Regions from separate parts of the Homo sapiens genome. Here all the other regions are linked to region 2. The links come from fine-mapping of genetic effects on gene expression. A gene starts in region 2. Each other region holds a variant in brackets. All regions are shown on one strand. Distances are between the middles of the regions.

Region 1 (8,185 bases), 23 kb before region 2:
AACAATCCCCATTGGATATTTAGGTTAGTTCTATTTTTTAGCATAAGTAAGGCTTCGACAACCAGCCTTTATACAAATCTGTACCCACATCTCTACATTTTTCCCCTTAGGTTAAATTGTAAATTTTTTTTTTTTTTTTTTGAGACAGTGTCTCCCTCCATTACCCAGGCTGGAGTGCAGTCGTGCGATCGTAGCTCACTGCAGCCTCAAACTCCTGGGCTCAAACCATCCTCCCGCTTTAGCCTCCCCGTGTAGCTGGGGATACAGGTGTACACCACCAAACCTGGCCAAAACTTTTAAATGTATCACCAAATTGCCCTCCAAGTGAAGTTACACATGTGTACACTCTCATGAGTAACGTTTGAGTGGCTATTTCCCCATGATCTCTCCAACACTGGTTATTGTGGTTTTTTAAAAGACCTTGCCAATGTCATAGGTAAAAAAATAGCATATCATTGTTTGAATCTAATGTTATTTTCATTATACTGTTTTATTTCTGGTAGAATGTAAAATTGCATACATACTATTTTTACAACTTTATAAAAATACATGGAACACACATGTTTCAAATGTGGAAAGAACAATAGAAAAATGTCAGTAGTTGTATGATGGGATTGTAATATAATTCTTTTATGTTGTAAATTTTTTAAATTAAAAAGAATCTCTGTAGCAGATGGCTACTTATTCCTCCAAATTCTTCCCCTCTTCCTGGGCACAGTTGCCCAGCTACAGGCTACATTTCCTAGACTCCTGTGCAGCTGGATGTGACCATGTGGTTAAGTGTGGACTAACCAAATATTGAAAGGAAGTGATGTGAACATTTTCTGGGTCATCTCCAGATTTAAGCTCCTTATCTGGAATGTTGGTTCTTCCTCCTTTCCCAGAGTTAGCAACCCAGCCTTGATTAAGCAAATAATGACACCTTAGGGGATGGAGACCAACAGGGAAACTACCTGTTTTTTGTTTTTTGTTTTTTTGACAGAGTCTTGCTCTGTAGCCCAGTGGCATCATCTTGACTCACTGCAACCTCCGCCTCCTGGGTTCAAGCAATTCTCCCTGCCTCAGCCTCCCGAGTAGCTGGGATTACAGGTGTCCGCCACCACGCCCTGCTAATTTTTGTATTTTTAGTAGAGACGGGGTTTCGCCATATTGGCCAGGCTGGCCTTGAACTCCTGACCTCAGGTGATCCACCTGCCTCGGCCTCCCAAAGTGCTGGGATTACAGGCATGTGCCACCGCTCCTGGCTGAAACTGTATCTGTTTATGGCGGCATCACTTGACCAATCCAGCCTGGTTGTTTTGTTTTGTAAGAGAAAAATTAATTTTGATGTTTTTGCACCCACGATATTTTGGGGCCTCTTTGTTACAGCAGTGTAGCTGTGACCCTAATAATCTCAAACTTCTCCCTAAGACTGGGGACATTTTAGGGACAGTTTCACAGTTTGTGGAGCTGATTGGAAGCTGGTAGCAGAGGACTGGGAAGCTACTATATACTTTCCTGAATACTAGAAAATGTTTTTTTTTTATATTCCTTCATATAAACTTTAACAAAATTCTGTGTTAGTATATTTTTTGTTTACAAGGTTTAGAAATAAAAAAATATAATTTATGGTCGATACAAAATACAAAATCACAACGTAAACATCACAACTATAAGTATCCAAAAAAATAAGCTGCCAACCAACATGCTCCATTGAGGATAAATTTCTCTTATTAATAATACTTTGAAGGCTACAGGTTATCACTGGTTTTGCTACATTGTGTACTTTTAATGGCAATGATTGTGGTTTACATGATCATGACAATAAGAAGCATACTTTTATTTTTTTATTTTTATTCTTTTTTTTTTTGAGACGGAGTCTCACTCTGTCGCCCAGGCTGGAGTGCAGTGGTGCGATCTCAGCTCACTGCAACCTCCGCCTCCTGTGTTCACGCCGTTCTCCTGCCTCAGCCTGCCGAGCAGCTGGGACAACAGGCGCCCGCCACCACGGCCGGCTAATTTTTTTTTTCTTTTTTCGTATTTTGAGTAGAGATGGGGTTTCACCATGTTAGCCAGGATGGTCTCGATCTCCTGACCTCGTGATCCGCCCGCCTCGGCCTCCCAAAGTGCTGGGATTACAGGCATGAGCCACCGCGCCTGGCCATTTTTATTCTATTTTTTAAGACAGGGTCTCACTCTGTTGCCTAGGCTGGAGTGCAGTAGCGTGATCATGGCTCACTGCAACCTCCGCCTCCCAGGTCCAAGTGATTCTCCTGCCTCAGCCTCCTGAGTAGCTGGGACTACAGGTGCACGCCACTACGCCCAGCTAATTTTGTATTAGTGGAGACAGGGTTTCACCATGTTGGCCAAGCTGGTCTCGAACTCCTGGCCTCATGTGATCCACCCCCTTGGCCTCTCAAAGTACTGGGATTACAGGCAGGAAGGATACTTTTAAAAAACAGTTTCAGGCTGGGCGTGGTGGGTTTCATCTTTATCCTAGCACTTTGGGAGGCCGAGGCAGGTGGATCACTTGAGGTCAGGAGTTGGAGACCAGCCTGGCCAACATGTGAAACCCCGTCTCTACTAAAGATACAAAAATTAGTTGAGCGTTGTGGCAGACACCTGTAATCCCAATTACTTGGGAGGCTGAGGCAGGAGAATTGCTCAAAACCCGGGTTTCGATGAGCCAATATGGCACCGCTGCACTGCAGCCTGGGCAATAGAGTGAGACTCCATCTTATAAATAAATAAATAAATAACAGTTTCACATTATTGGTTCAATTGAATGGATTCACAGTTACTGCTGTTGAATGTAGTTGCAATGACTACTCTGGAAAGTACAGTGCCAGGTGGCACTCTGAGAAGTCAGCATTTGTCCTAGGTATTGGACGTTGGCAAGAGACCCCAGCACCACACACAGGAAGTTTGGAAGGTACTCATCACAACAGTTCACCCACTATCTTCATGAACAACTGGTTCCACAGCCACCAGGATGACTTGGGTCCACAATTCTCGTCACCATTATACAGCCTAGCTATGACCCACTCCCTGGGGACCTAGGGAGTCAGGACCTTCAAAATCTAGGGAAGGCAACAGTGACTTCAGCTTCCCCTCGTCACGTGGGAGGGGAGCCTTCCTTTCTCCTGAGCGGGCCCTCTCCTAGAACCCACAGTAGTTGTAGGGTGGCAGTGATCCCCAGCCTGCTCCTTAGTGAGGAAGCCTGGATTCTGTTCCTCCTTGTGACATGGCAGAGACAGGAATTTCAAGGCCAGAGGGCATGGATGTGCTTCCCAGCCCTACTTCTTACTATCGCGAGAACCAGTGTGGGCAAGGGATGCCATTTTGCATTTTGTCATGGTTTTTCCTCCACTTAAGATCACCATTTGCAATTCACTTGTTGCTATATTGCCTTCATAGTTATCATTTTAGTAATTGTACATTATTTAATTGAACAATAGAATTTACTTAAAGAGCTCCTTGTTGTGGACTCTTTAAGTAGTTCCCAATTTTGTGTTACTACAAAAATTGCTGCAATTAGTATATTTTGCAATACAACTTTTTGCTTCTGTTGGATAATTCCCTCAGGAAATGGGGTAAGTTTTGACTATCTCTTAGACTAGAAGGATGTTGTGGTAACAATATCTTTCTTTGCTTAGCAAACAATGAAGAAGACCAGAACTATCCTTCAGTAAGAAGTGCTTAACTAAACTATGCTACCTCTAATTAATGGAATACAAGGCAACTACTTAAAGAAATTAGGATTACTTTATAATAGCCAAAAATGGAAGCAATTTAGATGCTCATCAGCTAATAGATAAATAAAATATGGTATTATATCCATACAGTGGAATATTACTCAGCCATAAAAAGGAATGAGGTACATACTACAACATGGATGAATCTTGAAAACATTACGCTACATAAAATAAATTAGACACAGAAGGCCACATATAATATGATTCCATTTGTATGAAATGTGTAGAATAGGCAAATCCATAGAGATGGAAAATAAGATAAGCAGTCCTTGGGGGCAGGGGAAGGGGGCAATGGGGCATGATTACTAACAGATACAGGGTTTCTTTTTGGGATGATGAAATTGTCCTGAATTAGGTAATAGTGATGATTGCAAGAAAGACCTCATGAATATGCTAAAAACCACTGACTTGTACACTTTAAAAGGGTGAGCTTTAATACTGTAATAATACTGTAAAATTCTCAATTTTTAAAAAAGAGAAGGGTTGGGCACAGTAGCTCACGCCTGTAATCCCAGCACTTTGGGAGGCCAAGGCAGGCAGATCACCTGAGGTCAGTAGTTCGAGACCAGCCCGGCCAACATGGGGAAACCCCGTCTCTACTAAAAATACAAAAATTAGCTGGGCATGGTGGCAGGTGCCGGTAATCCCAGCTACTCCGGAGGCTGAGGCTGAAGAACCGCTTGAACCTGGGAGGCGAAAGTTGCAGTGAGCTGAGATTGTGCCATTGGGCTCCAGCCTGGGTGAC[A/G]AGAGCAAAACTCCGTCTCCAAAAAAAAAAAAAGAGAGAAAGATCTAAATGTATTCACATGTTGTATTATTCATTGAAAAAAGCAAAGTACAGAATAACATCTATCCTATGCCATTTTTGTGAAAGTCTTTTTTTGATATTTCATGGTCGAGATTGTGGGGCTTCTTCCAGAATATGTCAGTCTTGCCTTCACTCTGCCATAAGTTCAGGCAAGAAAGCAGCTCCTTTCTCTAAAGAATAGATAGCACCTGCCATGCACCAGGTACTGTGATAATGTATAACAATTTCTGTGTAATGTATAATTATTCCCATTTTTCAGATGGCAAAACTGAAAGATAAGAGAGATGAGTGACTTGCCAAGTTTACACAGCAAGGACAGGAATGAAAACTCAAGCCTGTCTAACTCCAGAGAAGGAAGAGCGTGGGCTCTTGGAATCTGATTCTCAGCTTTGTTTGTTCCCTGTGGATTGTCAGGCCATGGGCCTGGAGGCTGCTCCATTTCAGGAAGCGTAGCTAACAAGAATGCTGGTTTATGAATTTACACGGAGAGGTTGTTCATGGTCCTTTATTTGAGAATAGTAGTAAGTGGACGTCAGAGAGTCATCTTGCCCCAGGGGTACGCCCCTGTATTTTGATGGGAATATTTCAGTAGCTCCTAACTGGTCCACTCATGTTGCCTGGATGTTCCATGCTCCTTCACAAAGCTGTCCTTGCTAAGTTGCTAACTAGAAAACCCTTCCTGCCTACCAGCTAGTCAACAAACTCCTACTTCCCCATCAAAACCCAGCTAATATGTCCCTTCTGTTTTCTTTTCAACAACACCATTTATAGATCCTCCAACTGAGCCTTTTTAATAACACTAGTAATGTTATCATTTATTGAGCTCCCATTATCTGCTAGGCAATTTTAAGTATTGATATACTTGTACCTTTTAATGTTCATGGTAATTATGCAATACAAGTATAACTATTTACATTTCTTCCAGATGAGGAAACAACCTCGAGATGTTAGGAAATTTGCCCAAAGTCTCACAACCAGGACATGAAGAAACAGAACTTTCTGACTCCAAAGTTCATACTCTCCCCCTTACACCACATCCCCTTTTCCTTGCACCATTCACTTTGAATTGCAAATACTGCTTGTCACTTGTCACCATCTTCACCCTTGCCCCACAAGCCCTGGCAGGCAGGTGGTGGCTCTGATTTCAGGACTGCCACCCCATTGTCCAGTACAAGGCCTGCTCTCAAGTGGCCAATCCTAAAAGTTGCATAGCAGTGAATTGTTTCATTTACAGGAACACACCTTGGAAAATAAAAGCAATGTGTTCATTCTTTCCCTGCAGATGGGATAGGCCCACTCTCTCCCCCGAAGAGGTGATAAGGGGGCAGGTCTTGTCTCCTTGAGGACTTGCAGATGTTTCCTGAGGCCCTGAGAGCATTTCTGCTTCTGACCTGCCTTGGCTGCCACTGCCAGTTAATGTGAGCTGCTGGGAAAGCCAGCTTCATGGCTCTGCTGCGTGTGGATGCCAACCACTGACTCCAGCCAGCTCTCCTGGAAACTGCCCTGAAATATTAAGGCTAGTAGGGGCCCACCAAGGATGGAGGCTGCATCACCAGCTTGCTGGATTCTCACTGAAGCCCAGCAGGATTTTCATTGCAGAAACTAAGCTTGTTAAGACCTCAAGCTTGGCAGTCAGCTCTAGCTTTGAAAATCTCCTCTACCACTTACTAAATCTGTGGTCTCTGGGCAAGTTTCTCAGCCTTTCTTAGCCTCAGTTCCTTCATCCATAACAGGAAGTAATTGCCTTCTTTTCTAGGTTGTTGATAAAAAGAGATAATGCACATAAAACCCTTCCCATTGAGCCCAGCACAGTGCCTGCATACAACAACTGCACCAAAAGTGATGATAATAATGATCATTGTTATGCAACTATCCATGGCAAATTTTTTCTTGTTTGCAGCTAAGAATCTTGATATGGCTAATATTATTAGTTGGGGGAGCAGAATAGTTTCTTTGGAAGGACAAGTCATTTGGGCTAGATGAGTAGTTTTCCCTAGTCCAGGACCAGTCCTGCCTGAGAAAGTGATCTCCCACCTTTGGGTGTAAACATATGCTGTTCTAGATCCCAATTCCTGGAGTAACCCTGGGAAGGCAGAGGCCTGGTCAAAACAAGACCCGTACTTTCCTGAATGCCAGGAAGCAATTACTTCTGTATCCCAACCACCTAACTCTAGACAGAGCAATTAGCAATTATTAAAATAATTTATTATTTTTTGAAGAAAGTGAATGATAATTTTATAGTGAACAATGTTTAAAAGTTAGAAAGTATTTTCTTAGGGATTATGATACTTACATTACTTAAGCACACAAATACCCACAAAAAAGAACATGGACTTTATTTAAATTTTACATAACTATTTCTTGAACTCTTCCAGTTTTCATCAACAGGGCTGCAGGGAGAAACTGATTGATTTGTGCAGTTTGGGTTTCCAATATTTTCCCTGGACATTCTTTCATATATACTTTTCTATATTTTGACGAATTTCATTTTGTCATTTTTAAGCTTATCATAGTATTCTTTCAAATGGGGGCCAAAGTTTGCTCATCCACCTGTCATTTGGGACCTGGGTAGGCCCCACTTTATGTAATCATGCATAATACTAGCAACCTTTATTTAAAAAAAGATTTATTTATTTACTTATTTTTTGAGACAGTCTCACTCTGTTGCCCAGGCTGGAGTGCAATGGCATCATCTTGGCTCACTACAACCTCTGCCTCCTGGGTTCAAGCAATTTTCCTGCCTCAGCCTTCCGAGTAGGTGGGATTACAGGTGTCCGCCACCACACGTGGCTAAATTTTGTATTTTTAGCAGAGACAGGGTTTTGCCATGTTGGCCAGGCTGGTCTCAAACTCCTGACCTCAGGTGATCTACCCACCTCAGCCTCCCAAAGTGCAGGGATTACAGGCGTGAGCTACCGCTCCTGGCCTGAAACAAGATTTAAAAACAATTTTGGAAATACATCCTTAGGACGAATCACTTAGATGTGGACTTGGGAGCCAAAGGATAGGAATAGATTTTTCTGCTTTTGTTACTAAAGGTTGGATTATCCTGAAGATAGAGAAAACCAGCTCACAGAGATCCTCCATGCACTCACTTCTGGTCTGAAATAGGAAAGAAATACAGAAGCAATGCCAATGAGATGACAAGGCACTCTTTGCAGAGCCAGGCAGCATTTGCTGGAAGGGGCTGGACTTTTCTTTTCCATGGGAACGTTCTCAGCTGATATCCCAGTCCTCTGGCTGTCAGTTTATTCAGGGCTACTCCACCCCCGCCTCAACTGCCTTTGCAGGAATTGCACAGTGGTAGTTGACACAGAGCCGGACGCACTCTAGAACCTCCCATGAATTCCAGAGAGTCAAATGCCTGTGGTGGGCAGGAATAAATGTTCTACTTGAACAAGGTGACATGGCCTGGGAGAGGGAGAACCACACCGACCAGGCAGGGCCCCGCCATCAACCTGCTGATGCAACAGGTACCCCCTCCCCACCTGGATGGCAGATTTCTTAATTTACACAACTATAGATGCATTTATTTGGCTTAGGAATTTGATTCCTTTTTTTTTTTTATACAGTTTCACTCTGTCACCCAGGCTGGAGTGCAGTGGCGCCATCTTGGCTCACTGCAACCTCCGCCTCCTGGGTTCAA
Region 2 (8,185 bases):
CTGAATCTGCTGGTGCCTTGATCTTGGACTTCCCAGGCACCAGAGCTGGGAGAGATATATTTTTTGTTGTCTACAAGCCACAATCTACAGTACTTTGTTGCAGCAGCCCAAATGGACTAAGACATAATAGTACCTATTTCCTGGGGTTTTTAGGATTAAACAAAACAATTCATATGTAGCTCTTGGTATAGTGTCTAGCATAGACTATGAGCTCAATTATTTACTATTAATATTTGCTATACTGTCTTCATAGCTACACTTACAATGACTTTCTAGGATTAAATTTAACAGGTATAATAATACCTTTCTTTGATGACAGATATGTAAGGTATTTCCAATTTTTAAACACAAACATAATTCCTAAGAAAGTCATCTTGTAGTTTAGAGATTAAGGAAGATTTAAGATTAAGGAAATTTAAAAATTAAATGTTGAATGGACATTAACACATTTAAATTACTGGTATCTTTCAAAAAAATTCAATATTTTCTATACATATGACAGGCTAATATCCCATCTTAAAAGCCCCGGCATGGATGATCCTTGCCTAAGGCAGAGAGCTGACCTGAATCACTCGACAAGGTCTCCTAGTCATTTGCTCTGTGGCTCTCCTGGCCAAGAAGCTGCATCAGCTTTTTTCCCCTTGCCAGAGAACCTCTGATACAGCAAAGCTCAGGGCCAACCCAGCATTTTTCAGATATCATTTGGAAATATCAGGTAGGGCAAGTGTCAGGCCATGTCACCTGATGGGGAACTTATGGGGCAGGGGTTTCTGCTCTGGTCCTTCAGCCAACAAGTCTCAAAGTTAGCAATGGTATAACAAAAATATGAACCTACACAGCTTGAGCACCGTCTGTGTGCTAGGCTCTGTAAAAACATTCTCCTCAATCCTAGTCAACAAATGAGAGACTATTTATTGGCCCCATTTAATAGATGAGAAAAGTGGCCTGGCGCGGCGGCTCATGTCTGTAATCCCAGCACTTTGGGAGGTCTAGGCCGGAGGATAACTTGAGCTCAGGAGTTCGAGACCAGCCTGGCCAACATGGTGAAACCCCGTCTGTACTAAAAATACAAGAATTAACTGGGCCTGGTGGCAAGTGCCTGTAATCCCGGCTACTCGGGAGGCTGAGGCAGGAGAATCGATTGAACCTGGGAGGCGGAGGTTGCAGTGAGCCAAGATCACCCCACTGCACTCCAGCCTGGGCGACAAGGGTGAAACACTGTCTCAAAAAAAAAAAAGTGGGGGGGAAAACTGAGGCTCAGAGAGGTGAAAGGTTTCCTCCAAGGTCACAGAGTTGGCAGTCATGACCCAAGTCTGTCTGACTCTAAAGACACAAGCTCCTCCCACAAGCACGACAAGACCTCAATTAATTCAATTTAACCAGCATGGGTTGGCACTTACATGTGTTGCCCCTGCTAGGTTCTCAGAACAGGGAGAACATCTGACGTAAGAGACAGACACATAAATAACAAGTTCTAGTATTAAGGCTGATGCATGCCTATGAGAAGTAATAAAGCCATGTGGGCAATACAATTTATCCTGTTGTATATATTTCTGAAAGCCATCCTTAATCCTTTTAGGAAGAGGCAACGGAGAGGTAGATTGGTAGATCAGGGCTGTAATCAATGCATAAACAAGGGGTGGTGGGGAAATGAGAAGGGAGAGATTAATTCCCACTCAAATCCAGGAATGTCTTTTAGAGAATGTGACATTTTGGTTGGGGTTTGAAGGGCCAGGGAGGGTCAGCAAGGGAATATGGGGGACTGGCATGACCTGTCCACCCTCCCAAAGCAAAGTAAAAATAGAACCTTGGTTAGTGCTTGCTAAATATTGGTCCTGAAGACAGAACACTCACATTCTCCCTCATTCCCGCTGTCTTATATACATAGACCTATCAAGACACACCCATAGATAACCACAAATGCAAAAACACAGAAAATACACAAAAACACACACCAGTACACATGCACAGATTATTAAGACACAATATATGAAAATAGATACTAGCTCCCATACTCATAAACTCACACAGATACATACAACACTCATACACACAGACTCACAAACATGTTTATGCATTCATACACAGCCTCCCCCACCCACTACTCATGCAGGAAAATAAATGCATGCTTTAATTAACATACACGGGTTCACACATAAATCTCATCCTGCTGGTCTGGTTGAAGACCAATGACTAATGGGAAACCATGCACAAAGCCAAACATCACGTAGGGGAGGCCGGGATTGGGTTAGCAGTGGGGCTTGAATTAAGCCCCATCAGATGACAAACCCGCCCTGCCTGGCTTCCTCTGGAAGCTGCTGAGCCGAAGCAGCAGCGCCTGACCTAGCTCTGGATCCTGGGCGGATGATGCGAGGCTGCGTGCCCGAATTCCAGCTTGATTCAGGGTTTAGTGTCATCCAGGGTCAAGCTCGGCTATTAGCCCCACCCCAACCCCTGCAACCAGCCGGAGGCTCTGGGGGCACTGAAGGGCTGTGGCCTGGGGCTGCTTTCTAATCCTGGGCTTGCCCTGGCGCAAATGCTGAGAATAGTTAGCATTAATGAGGGTTACAACAGTGGGCCAGGCTCTGGGCTAAGCCCTTTACGTCCATGACTTAATTCTCACAACAGCTCTGTGAGGGGGGTGGGGGGTGAGGGGTGTCCTATCATCTCCATTTTAGTGGTGAAAAAACCGCGCTCAGGCCACAAAACCATTCAGCAAAAGACATCAAGTTGAGGTTCAACCCTGTCTGATCCTATTCTTCCCGGGGTTTAGGTAAGTGTGCTTGCGAGCCTGTCTCCTCCACGCAGGAAGCTTGCACCTTCTGCCCTCAGGGGTCTCCACCGCCCGGTCCCGCCCCCTTGTCCAGTCTGGCACAACACCTGGCCCACAGCAGGTTTCTGGTGAGGGCGTGGGTCTCGGTTCAGGGAGGCCCTCAGCAAGGGCCTCAGCTTCCCCATCTCTGAAATGGGAATGGCGGCAGAGACCTCGCAAGGCTGCGACCAGGCTCTCTGGAGCAGCAGAGGGCATGCCAAGCTCTACATCGTCGCTGCCGCTGCCCTCTCCCATCGCGGGGTTCCCGCGCGGTCCCCGCCCGAGCTGGGGTGCGGCGCTGGCGCCCCATTGTTCAGGAGGGCGGGGATGCTCCCGAGTGCTGATTCCACCCCCCGCTCGTGCTCGCAGCCCGGTGGAGCAGATGACTAGGCCCGGCGTCTGCCGCGCGGGGCGCATCCTTTGTCTGCTCCGCGGCGCCCGGTGCCCGAGGCCCGCGCCCCACTCTTTGGGCAGACAAAGCCGGGGCCGCCGCGAGCCCGGCGGGCTAGAGCTGGGCTCGCACCACCCTTCTCCCGCCTCACGGACCGCCCCCTCTCCTGGACGTCCTCTGATTGGCCTACGGGGCTACAAAGAGGCCGGGAAGCGGGCGGATCACGTGGGCGACTGTGGCTTCCCATTGGTTAGGCGCGGCTGCCAATCGAGGAGGGCGGGCGGTCCGCGCTCGGTCCGGTCGCTCCCTCCGCGCTGGGGCCCGCCCGCGGGGCCGGCCGCCTGTCAGAGGGAGGTGGCGATGGTGCGCCCGGTGGCGGTGGCGGCGGCGGTTGCGGAGGCTTCCTTGGTCGGATTGCAACGAGGAGAAGATGACTGACCAACCGACTGGCTGAATGAATGAATGGCGGAGCCGAGCGCGCCATGAGGAGCCTGCCGAGCCTGGGCGGCCTCGCCCTGTTGTGCTGCGCCGCCGCCGCCGCCGCCGCCGCCGTCGCCTCAGCCGCCTCGGCGGGGAATGTCACCGGTGGCGGCGGGGCCGCGGGGCAGGTGGACGCGTCGCCGGGCCCCGGGTTGCGGGGCGAGCCCAGCCACCCCTTCCCTAGGGCGACGGCTCCCACGGCCCAGGCCCCGAGGACCGGGCCCCCGCGCGCCACCGTCCACCGACCCCTGGCTGCGACTTCTCCAGCCCAGTCCCCGGAGACCACCCCTCTTTGGGCGACTGCTGGACCCTCTTCCACCACCTTTCAGGCGCCGCTCGGCCCCTCGCCGACCACCCCTCCGGCGGCGGAACGCACTTCGACCACCTCTCAGGCGCCGACCAGACCCGCGCCGACCACCCTTTCGACGACCACTGGCCCGGCGCCGACCACCCCTGTAGCGACCACCGTACCGGCGCCCACGACTCCCCGGACCCCGACCCCCGATCTCCCCAGCAGCAGCAACAGCAGCGTCCTCCCCACCCCACCTGCCACCGAGGCCCCCTCTTCGCCTCCTCCAGGTGAGTCCGGCGCTCCCTCTCGGGCAGGACCCGTCCTCACCTCAGCCCCGGCAATCTAGGGTTGGGCTCTTGCCTATAATTTATCGTTTGTTACCCCAAAGACACCCCAGGTTCCGGCTCCCGAGGGGGGATCCCAGGTCCAGCTAGTCTCCCTCCCGCCCCCGATCAATCTGGAAAGTCTTTTGTCCCCCGTGGGCTGTGCTCCCTCGGGAGGGGGTGGCTGCTGGGTGGAAGGCATCTCATCTTCTTCCCAACAGGGCTTTCTGGCCTTTTTCAGAGACCAGAATGGGCGCAAACTTTTGGGTTGGGTTCGCGCACCCAGCCTCTCTGCCTGGGTTATTTGGGGAAGTTTGAAAGCCCGCATAGTACCTCCTTCAACCACTGGGTCAAAAGCTGAGGGTAAGGAATTCCTCCCAAAGCTCCAGTTTCCCTGTTCATTTCTTCTTGTTTATGTAAATATCAGATGTGTGTGTATGACAGGTGGAAGAGAGGTAGTGAGAGGATTTTGTTTACAAACAGTAGTATGGACCACTTGAGGGCAAAAAATAAAAACAAAAAAGGCATTGTAATCCATGTTGTCCCTGCAAATAAGTGGATTCAGTAGGTCATTTGGGACAGGTGTGTATCTAGGCTGAGCACATTTACAAATTAGGTTAAATCTCTTCCTCGCACCATTTTTTTCTTCCACAATTATAAGGTCAACATGTTTGGCCAAATACACCATTTAAGCAAGGATGCCTATTTTTGTCTCCTTAAGCCAGGATGTTCAACTTTGCTGATGCTGATATATGCCAATTTCTGTTTGAGCCCACGTAGAAAAGGCTTTTCTTGCTGAAGTCTTCAAGCAAAGTTAAAGACAACTCGTATTCTTTCCCCGTTTAAATCTTAAGTGGGCCTAGGACTAAAACAAAACAAAACAAAAGCCTACTTTGTCAGAACGTTTGGACAAAAGTTTCTGAATTGTCTTGCTTTGAGTTGGGGTGGAGGTTTGTCCAAATCCTTTGTCTAGCTGGGTCTCTGACCTAAATCTTAGGCTTAGTGATTTACTGTGGAGTCAGGTATGGACTTTGGACTATAATTGAGTGTGTAGAGAATTTTCCCACATGGTTATGAACCTTAATACAGTCTTGATCCTTGGGTTGGAGCTTGGCAATGACATAAGTAGGATTATTCACCCATAAAAAGCCAAGTGTGCATCTCTTCCAGCTTCAAGGAATGCATTAGCTAGCTGGGTTTTACCTGTAACCCCTTTTGGCTTTCATATAGAGAGATTGACATATTACTGAGAGACAGGAAGCATAGTGGTTGAGAGTATGGACTCTGGAGTTTATTCTTAGGTTTGAATCCTAGCTCTTCCCCTTGTTAGCTGTGTAAGCTTAGGCGGCTCACTGAAGCTCTTTGGACTCAGTTTCTTTGATTGTGAAATGAAGATAATATTATAGTAGTACTTAACTCATAAGGTTGCTGTGAAGACTTTTTTTGTTTTTGTTTTTGTTTTTTGAGACAGGGTCTGGCTCTGTTGCCCAGGCTGAAGTGCAGTGGCACAATCTTGGCTCACTGCAACCTCTGCCTCCCAGGCTCAAGCGATCCTCCCACCTCAGCTTCCTGAGCAGCTGAGACTACAGGCGTGGGTCACCACACCCAGCTAATTTTTTGTATTTTTTGTAGAGATGAGGGCTCACTATATTGCCCAGGCTAGTCTTGAGTTCCTGAACTCAAGCAGTCCTCCTGCCTCGGCCTCCCAAAGTTCTAGGATTTCAGGCATGATTCACTTCACCAGGCCTGCTGGGAAGATTAAATAAGTTAACACTTACTGTGCTTACAACAGTTCCTAGTGTAGAATAAGCACCGTGTGTGTTAGCTATGCTTATGACCAGGCCTGTGGGTGTGTGTGTGTGTGTGTGTGTGTGTGTATGTATGTATGTATAGAAAGCATTTGAGAAAACTAGTAGGGACTTGGGGTGATTTTTATTTGTTTTAGTAAAATATAATAGAAAAAGAATGAATTAGATTCTCTGGAGTTTTAAGCATACAGTAGCATTTAAGTAGAAAGATCACTTACTTTGGTTAGTATCTGATAAATAAATCTGTGTAATTCATGTTATTTTACTTTTACTATTTTTGTGTTGTTATTTTTCAACCCCAAAGGTAACCCCTACTGGCAAAAAAATATAAACAACCAGAAGTCCACAAAGGAAAAAGGGAAAGTCACTCCTTCACTGCCTCCTAGTTTCAGTCAGTCCCTAGAGGTTACTACTGTTAGCAATTTGTCAGATCTTTTTTCAGCTGTTTTTGCTGGGCATATATGAACATACACACAGGGTATTTAAAAATAGATTTTAAAAAATCAAAATGGAATAATTCTATACATGTTTTGCAACTTGTGGTATTCACTTAACTATGTATCATGGACTTTTAAAAAAAATATCGGTATCTAGGGTCTACTTTATTCTTTTTAATAGTTGCATTTTCCAGGGTAAGAATGTATCATAATTTATTTAACCAAGCCCTTATTTATGGACACTTAGATTGCTTCTAGGCTTCACTTTAAAAAGCAGAGAGGAAGCAGCACAGAGTATTTTTGTTAAATCCATCATCTATTTACTATATTCTCTAATACTTTCACTGGAGTTGCTTAGAATCCAATTCAGTATACACTGCAGTAAAGCTGGATTGAGTAATATTTGTCATCTGAACTGTTGTTCAAGGCTTTTAATAATTTTCATGAACTAACATTATACTTACGTCTGTGATGGTCTTTGGGTGAAAAAATCTTGGAAGGATGTCCAATTTCGATAACTTTCCTGTGTTTTAAATATTAGGTAGTTTGTACTTCTCTGTGAATTCACTCTAGATTGCCAATATCTAGTTCTCAGCAGCTAAATTGACTTTACAGTGATCTGATCAAGTATGGAGCATGGGCTCCAGTCTACTTTAAACAGAAAACATATCTCTTTGGCAGAAGGAAAACTTATAATTGAATTTGAGACAACTGGTTTGGCTTGCAAAGTTGGATTCCCTGGCATTTGAGAAGATGGTTGTACAGTATTTTTTAATTTCAACGTTCCTGTAAGAACTAATGCCACTGATAATATATTATTTGATTGAATAGGTCTTATAGATGCTTTTTGAATTAATAATAATTTCTTTCATGGAGATCTAGCTGAGAGCTCTTGCCTGCCCCTCAGTTAGGGCCCTTTTTTGTTTACAAGGACACTGATCTGCAAACTGAAACTAATTGCCCAGCAAGCAGGCACTTTTTCTCCCACAAACCCAGCAAAACATTCACTGATTGGTTGGCTGGGTAGGACTTTTTTTTTTTTTTTTTTTTTTAAGACGGAGTTTCGCTCTTGTTGCCCAGGCTGGAGTGCAATGGTGCTATCTCGGCTCACCACAACCTCCACCTCCCGGGTTCAAGCGATTCTCCTCAGTCTTCCAAGTAGCTGGGATTACAGGCATGTGCCACCATGCCCAGCTAATTTTGTGTTTTTAGTAAAGACAGTGTTTCTCCATGTTGGTCAGGCTGGTCTCGGATTCCCGACCTCAGGTGATCTGTCCACCTTGGCCTCCCAAAGTACTGTAATTACAGGTGTAAGCCACCGTGCCTGGCCCTGGGTAGGACATTTTAAGCAGGGTGAAGAGAGATGCTGTGATACCAGAGGTAATAATAATCAGTAAGACACTAAGGTAATGACAAATGTTTGATTTTTTTTTTTTTTTTTTTTGAGACGGAGTTTCGCTCTTTTTGCCCAGGCTAGATTGGCTCACTGCAACCTCCACCTCCGGGTTCAAGCGATTCTCTTGCCTCAGCTTCCCAAGTAGCTGGGATTACAGGTGCGCACCACCATGCCTGGCTAATTTTTGTATTTTTAGTAGAGATGGGGTTTCACCATGTTGGCCAGGCTGGTCTCGAACTTCTGACC
Region 3 (8,185 bases), 530 kb after region 2:
TCATGGAGGGCTTCTTGGAACTGGTGATACCTGAACTGAGATTTGAAGAGTGAGTGGAAGTTGACCAGTTGCCAAAGGTGATTGTGGGAGGATGCGGTTCTAGTCACTGACCCAGAGCCAGGGCACAGATGGTGTTTTGCATAAGTCTGAAGACTAAAAAATAGGTGCTTTTGTGACAAACCCCCATAGGACAAAGAGGGTCATGAAACAGGGAGGATACTCCTTTTGTTCAGAGACTGGTGAAAAAGAGAAATAAATAAATGAATGTGTGAAAATTTCTCTACCAACCCCAAAGCAATTTGATGATCCGTTGTTCCCTTGGGGTCCTATAATCTTCCTTTACATAATTCTATTATAGTACATATGATGCTGTGTTCTAATTACTATTTGATGTATCTGACACTCCACTTGACTTCAAGGTCAAGGACTTTATTTTTATTCATTCTTATGCCCATACCACCTAATGCAGCTTGGCACATGGAGTCCTAAGCAGATGTTTGCCAAATGAGTGAACAACACATAAGTCCATTTTGTTACAAAGAGCAAGGAAGCCTGTGATATTCAAGGCTTTGTGTTAAATTGCAGAAGGTGGGCTATAAAGACAAAGAAGCCCCCCTCCTCCACCCTCTGGAGCTTACCAGACTCTATCATAATAGCCCACCAGGGAAGAAAGAAGAGTTCTTATTCAGCGGCTTCCCACTGGCTCTGTGTGTGAGTCCCTGAACCTGCCTGGCTCCTCACATACAGGTTGCTACACCAGGGGAGGTCCAGTCCAGGCAGAGGAAAGCACACTCTCGAGTTGCTGGGACAGCCTGCTGCTTCTAAGCTTTTGAAGTAGGAGTTTCAGAATCTGCCCTTCACCAATGTGCAAGAGCTCTGACCCAGATGACTACTCCTCATTCATTCATTTGTTCATTCCATTTCATAAAGCAAGCACGGGGCCAGGAACTGGGTGGGCATCAGGGCTTTAGAGATCAGTAAGGTGTAGCAGATACTCTACCCACTGTGGCTGTCACTACTCCCATCCGCAACTGCTTTCTACTGCCAGCACCTGTGAAGTTCTACCTGAGGGCTTTCTCTGGCTATTATGTGTCATGGGCTGGCAATGCTGGGAATCAACCAGTGGCAGGTGGGAGATGGTGAATATATATTTCAGCCGCCTCATGCATCATGTGGGGCCACTCTGGTGCATGCCCGACTCTACCTCCCGAAGTCCCCAGGGCTTTGAGCTCTGGTGGCCCACAGTGGAAACCTGCCCATCAGTGCACCCTTCCTGTCTTTCTGTCTCTGTATTATTTCCCCATCCTCCCATGGGTACTTCCTGGGATTGCCTCCTACATCAACTACATGCACTGAAATTCTAGTCTTAAGGTTTTCTTCTGAGGGGAGCCCAACCAACATAAGACACTAGATATCTGTCCCTACAAAGCTGATCCTCTATCAAGAAAGTTTGATGCTTAGTTATATGACATGGGAGTAGATGCTATAATATGGAAGATACAGGAGCCAGAGGAGCTCACAGTATGGGCCCAAGGAAGGTCTTTTGCAGCAAGCGACTTGAAGCTGAATGCGTAAATTTTCTCAATTTTTTGCTTTGGATATTGATATGGTTTGGTTGTGTTCCCACCCAAATCTCATCTTGAACTGTGGTTCTACTAGTCCCCATGTGTTATGGGAGGGAACCAGTGGGAGGTAATGGAATCATGGGGGAGGTTACTCCCATGCTGTTCTCACAATAGTGAGTGAGTTCTCACGAGACCTGTTGGTTTTATAAAGGGCTTTTTCCCCTTCACCGGACGCTCATTCTCTCTCCTGCCACCCTGTGGAGTGGTGCCTTCCGCCATGATTGTAAGTTTCCTGAGGTCTCCACAGCTATGTGGAACTGTGAGACAATTAAACCTCTTTTCTTTATAAAGCACCCAATCTCAGGTATTTCTTCATTAAGAGAAAGTGTGAGAACAGTGTGAGAACAAACTGATACAAATATCTTCTATCTACCATACCTTGTTATGAAACAATAGGTCTGAATAACCTCCTACCCCTGGTGTTGTATAGCACACTGTGTTAGGATTCCTTCTGAATTCCTTTGGAAGGAAAGGGGGATTCATGAGAAGCAGCTGCAGACACCAGCCAGGAAGGTGATTTTTATTGGCCATCTCATCTAATTCTCAGGTCAGTCCTGGGAGGCTGGAGTCATGATTCACATTTTAGAGATGAGGAAACAGACTCACATAGGTCCTTCTTGCCCAAGAGCACACATCATGCTTTGGAGATGACCTTGAGGGGTAAAAATTATCACTCTGATGTTACTGATGAGACAACTACCGTGGCTCAGCCAGCAGGAGTGATGGCCTCAGAGGCACATTGTGTTGGAGCTGGAATCAGAAACCACCACAGCCTGACTCTGGTTCTCCACTCTCTCCTCCCTCTCAGGCTGCCTGTGAGCCAGGTGGGATGCCCCTGGAGACCATCATGGGGAGTGCCCACCAAGCACAGCCTTCCACAGGGCTGGGGAAGCTCCAGGGAAAGGATGGTGCTACAATATAGTGTCATGTTTAAGAAACAGCTCTGGACTTGTACTACCTGTATGCAAATCTTGGTTCCATAAATTAGAGTGATGTGATTTGGGCAAGGCATTTACCTTCTCTGAGCCTCAATTTTCTCATCCATAAGATGGGGATAATCGTAGTAACTACCTCATGGGGTTGCTGTGAGAATTAAATAGAAGGAAAGTGCTCCAGATAGTGACAAAACAATATACAATCCATAAAGCACTACAGATTCAACTTGTTTAATGTTTGGTAGGAATGGACACTGAGTTGAGATACTTAGAAACATGATTCCATTTTGTCCTTAAGAGTCAGTAAATTTTGGTTACTGTAGCCTTGTAGCATAGTTTGAAGTCAGGTAGTGTGATGCCTCCAGCTTTGTTCTTTTTGCTTAGGATTGTCTAGGCTATAGGGGGGTCTTCTTTGATTCCATATGAAATTTAAAATAGTTTCTTCTAAGTCTGTGAAGAGTGTCAATGGTAGCTTGATGGGGATAGCATTGAATCTATAAATTACTTTGGGCAGTATGGCTATTTTTGTGATATTAATTCTTCCTATCCATGAGGATGGAATGATTTTCCATTTGTTTTCTGTCCTCTCTTATTTCCTTGAGCTGTGGTTTGTAGTTCTCCTTGAAGAGGTCCTTCACATCCCTTGTCAGCTGTATTCCTAGGTATTTTATTCTCTTTGTAGTGATTGTGAATGAGAGTTCATTCATGATTTGGCTCTCTGCTTGTCTATTGTTTGTGTAAAGGAATGCTTGTGATTTTTGCACATTGATTTTGTATCCTGTGACTTTGCTGAGGCTGCTTATCAGTTCAAGGAGTTTTTGGGCTGAGATGATGGAGTTTTCTAAATATAAAATCATGTCATCTGCAAACAGAGACAACTTGTCTTCCTCTCTTCCTACCTGAATACCCTTTATTCCTTTCTCTTGCCTGATTGCCTTGGCCAGAACTTCCAATACTATGTTGAATAGGAGTGGTGAGAGAGGGCATCTTGTCTTGTACCAGTTTCCAAAGAGAATGCTTCCAGCTTTTGCCCATTCAATATGATATTGGCTGTGGGCTTGTCATAAATAGCTCTTATTATTTTGAGATATGTTCCATCAATACCTAGTTTATTGAGAGTTTTATAACATTAAGGGATGTTGAATTTTAACAAATCTGTATCTATCGAGATAATCATGGGGTTTGTGTCTTTGGTTCTGTTTATGTGATGGATTACATTTATTGATTTGTGTATGTTGAACCAGCCTTGCATCCCAGGGATGAAGCTGACTTGATTGTGGTGGATAAGTTTTTTGATGTGCTGCTGGATTCAGTTTGTCAGTATTTTATTGAGGATTTTTGCATCAATGTTCATCAGGGATATTGGCCTGAAGTTTTCTTTTTTTGTTGTGTCTCTTCCCAGTTTAGGTATCAAGATGATTCTGGCTTCATAAAATGAGTTAGGGAGGAGTCCTTCCTCTTCAATTGTTTGGAATAGTTTCAGAAGGAATGGTACCAGCTCCTCTTTGTAATACTGGTAGAATTCAGCTGTGAATCCATCTGGTCCTGGGCTTTTTTTTGTTGGTAGGCTATTAATTACTACCTCATTTCGGAGCTTGTTATTGGTCTATTCAGGGATT[C/T]GACTTCTTCCTGGTTTAGTCTTAGTAGAGTGTATGCATCCAAGAATTTATCCATTTCTTCTAGATTTTCTAGTTTATTTATGTAGAGGTATTTACAGTACTCTCTAATGGTAGTTTGTATTTCTGTGGGGTCAGTGATGATATCACTTTATCATTATTTATTGTGTCTATTTGATTCTTCTCTCTCTTCTTCTTTATTAGTCTAGCTAGCGGTCTATCTATTTTGTTAATTTTTCAAAAAACCAGCTCTTAGATTTGTTGATTTTTCGGAGGGTTTTTCGTGTCTGTATCTCCTTCAGTTCTTATCTGATCTTAGTTATTTGTTGTCTTCTGCTAACTTTTGGATTAGTTTGCTCTTGCCTCTCTAGCTCTTTTAATTGTGATGTCAGGATGTCGCTTTGAGATCTTTCTAGCTTTGTGCTGTGGACATTTATTGTTATAAATTTCCCTCTTAACACTGCTTTAGCTATGTCCCAGAGATTCTGGTACATTGTCTCTTTGTTCTCATTGGTTTCAAAGAACTTCTTGATTTCTGCCTTAATTTCATTATTTACCCAGGAGTCATTCAGGAGCAAGATGTTCAATTTCCATGACATTGTGTGGTTTTGAGTGAGTTTCTTAATCCTGAGTTCTAATTTGATTGCTCTGTGGTCTGAGAGACTGTTTGTTATGATTTCAGTTCTTTTGCTGAGGAGTGTTTTGCTTCAAATTATGTGGTCGATTTTAGAATAAGTGCCATGTGGCACTGAAAAGAATGTATATTCAGTTGATTTGGGGAACAGAGTTCTGTAGATGTCTACTAGGTCCACTTGATCCAGAGCTGAGTTCAAGTCCTGAATATTCTTTTTAATTTTCTGTCTTGTTAATCTGTCTAATACTGACAGTGGGGTATTAAAGTCTCCCACTATTATTGTGTGGGAGTCTAAGTCTCTTTGTAGGCCTTTAGAAACTTGTTTTATTAATCTGGGTGCTCCTGTATTGGGTGCACATATATTTAGAATAGTTAGCTCTTCTTGTTGAATTGTTCCCTTTACCATTATGTAATGCCCTTCTTTGTCTTATTGGGTCTTTGTTGGTTTAAAGTCTGTTTGTCAGAGACTAGGATTGCAACCCCTGATTTTTTTTTCCTTCTTTCCATTTGCTCAGTAAATTTTCTTCCATCCCTTTATTTTGAGCCTGTGTGTGTCTTTGCACGTAAGATGTGTCTCCTGAATACAGCACACCAATGGGTATTCAATTTGCCAGTCTGTGTCTTTTAATTGGGGCATTTAGCCCATTTACATTTAAGGTTAGTATTGTTGTGTATCAATTTGATCCTGTCATCATGATGCTACTTGGTTATTCTGCATACTAGTTGGTGCAGTTTCTTCACTGTGTCATTGGTCTTTATATTTTGGTGTGTTTTTGCAGTGGCTGGTACCAGTTTTTCCTTTCCATATTTAGTACTGGTACCAAAACAGACATATAGACCAAAGGAGCAGAACAGAGACCTCAGAAATAACACCACACATCTACAACCATCTGATCATCGACAAACCTGACAAAAACAAGCAATGGGGAAAGAATCTCCTATTCAGTAAATGGTGCTGGGAAAACTGGCTAGCCATATGCAGAAAACTGAAACTGGATCCCTTCCTTACACCTTATACAAAAATTAACTCAAGATGGATTGAAGATTAAAGGTAAAACCCCAAACCATAAAACCCTAGAAGAAAACCTAAGTGATACCATTCATGACATGGGCATGGGCAAAGACTTCATGACAAAAATGCCAAAAGCAATTGCAACAAAACCAAAATTGACACATGGGATCTAATTAAACTAAAGAGCTCCTGCACAGCAAAAGAAACTATCATCAGAATGAACGGGCAACCTACAGAATGGGATAAAATTTTTTGCAATCTACCTGTCTGTCTAATATCTGGAATTTACAAGGAACTTAAACATATTTACAAGAAAAAAACAACCCCATTAAAAAGTGAGCAAAGGATATAAACAGACACTTCTCATAATAAGACATTTACACAGCCAACAAACATGAAGAAAAAGCTAAACATCACTGATCATTAGAGAAATGCAAATCAAAACCACAGTGAGATACTATCTCATGCCAGTCAGAATGGTGATTATTAAAAAGTCAGGAAACAATAGATGATGGCGAGGCTGTAGAGAACTAGGAACACTTTTACACTGTTGGTGGGAATGTAAATTAGTTCAACCATTGTGGAAGACAGTATGGTGATTCCTCAAGGATCTAGAACCAGAAATACCATTTGACCCAGGGATCCCATTACTGGGTATATACCCAAAGGAATATAAATCATTCTATTTTAAAGACACATGTACACGTATATTTATTGCAGCACTATTTACAATAGCAAAGATATGGAACCAACCCGAATGCCCATCAATGATAGATTGGATAAAGAAAATGTGGTACATATATACCATGGAATACTATGCAGCCATAAAAAGGAATGAGATAATGTTCTTTGCAGCAACATGGATGAAGCTGGAAGCCATCATTGTCAGCAAACTAACACAGGAACAGAAAACCAAACACTGCATGTTCTCACTCAAAAGTGGGAGTTGAACATTGACAACACATGGACACAGAGAAGGGAACAATACACACCAGGGCCTGTTGTGGGGTGGAGGGTGAGGGGAGGGAACTTAGAGGATGGGTCAATAGGCACAGCAAACTACTATGGTATCCATATACCTATGTAACAAACCTGCACGTTCTCCACATGTATCCCTTTTTTTTTAAGAAGAAATAATAATTTTAAAAAAGTCAGTGAAGTTGGCATTATTGCCTTCTGTTTTACAGAGGAGAAGAATGGGGCACAAGGCGGTTAAGTAACTTGCTTAGAGTCACACAGCTGGTGGCAGAGCTGAGCAGTCTGACTCAAGCTAGTGCTCCTGACCACTGCATAGTGACCCTTCCTCTTGGTCTAGCAGGGTCTGTGGCTGCCACTTGGAACCTGATCCAATGATTCCCAGGCTTGTCCTTCACTTTGTATGTCAGCACTGGCTCCTGGTATTGAGGCCTCTGAGGGCAGCTGGGCCATTTTCCTAAGTAGTGTCTGTGGCAGCTCACTTCCTTTGCTGCCAACATAGGATGTTGGCAGGAATGACCAGAGCTGGATTCATGCTGTCTCCATCCGAAGTCCCAGATTGCACAATCTGCTCTCATCTCCATTCTGCAGGGACCCCACAAGCCCTCCAAAAGGTGCCCATGAAAGAACTCACACTACCCACATCCCAGACTCATCTTCCCATCTCAACAGTACTTAGCAATGTACCCATCTTTTAATTTTTGGGCCCTGCTGTAATATTAAGGCAGTAATTTATACACTTGGCTCCCGAGCTCCTGGCTGTTTCAAAGGCATTGATCACCCCGGAGCACTCATACAGGATTCAGGCTTACTCCTCCAACTCCTCTGCCAGCTATTGATTCCAATGACATTATTTATCAATTACGAAAGGTTTATTCCTCACTCGCTCCTGCACAAAAGAATCTGCGCATTTATTTTACAGCATGATTTATTGACACGTCACCATGCGTTACATGGAAAATTGAATTTTTGGAGGCTGGATAACCTTAGGAAATTTCACAGGTTCAATTAGACAGGAGAACATCAAAGAGTTTAATGATACAATTTTTCATCCATTTGCTGCAGCACTGGGAAAGGAGGGGCCCCAGGGCCAGGTCAGCTCAGAGCCCCAAACTATTCTTTAGTTCAGGTGTGCACTTAAGGATGAAGTCCTCATTGGCTGAAACCCTCCCTCAGATACTTTTGAGCCCTGGCTCAGGGCTTTTATTTATGACTCCCAAGGTCAGGATATTTCTTTAAGCTGGGTTCACCTTTTGTCCCCAGAGCAATAAACCTTTCCTTTGGCTGTTGGGGAGACTTGGACAGATCTTTCCTTGAACCATGATGGAAGGAAGGACCATCTGCGTTGGTGGATGAGCCTAAGAGAGAAATGGTGGTGTGATGTTTAG

The links. PIP is the estimated chance that this variant, and not a neighbour inherited with it, causes the effect.
Region 1: its variant is fine-mapped to the expression of MEGF9 in whole blood (TOPMed, PIP above 0.99).
Region 3: its variant is fine-mapped to the expression of MEGF9 in hippocampus (GTEx, PIP above 0.99).

The regions. Positions count from the first base shown.
Region 1 is chr9:120,732,978-120,741,162 of GRCh38, reverse strand. No RefSeq gene overlaps it. Among named protein-coding and RNA genes, the nearest start is that of MEGF9, 23 kb to the right of the region's middle. The variant A/G (reference allele first, on the strand shown) is at 4,480.
Region 2 is chr9:120,709,835-120,718,019 of GRCh38, reverse strand. MEGF9 (multiple EGF like domains 9) reads left to right here and starts at 3,550. Exons shown (of 6, transcript NM_001080497.3): 1 at 3,550-4,262. The coding sequence starts at 3,662. RefSeq lists a silencer at 3,013-3,862.
Region 3 is chr9:120,176,408-120,184,592 of GRCh38, reverse strand. No RefSeq gene overlaps it. Among named protein-coding and RNA genes, the nearest start is that of MIR147A, 65 kb to the left of the region's middle. The variant C/T (reference allele first, on the strand shown) is at 4,180.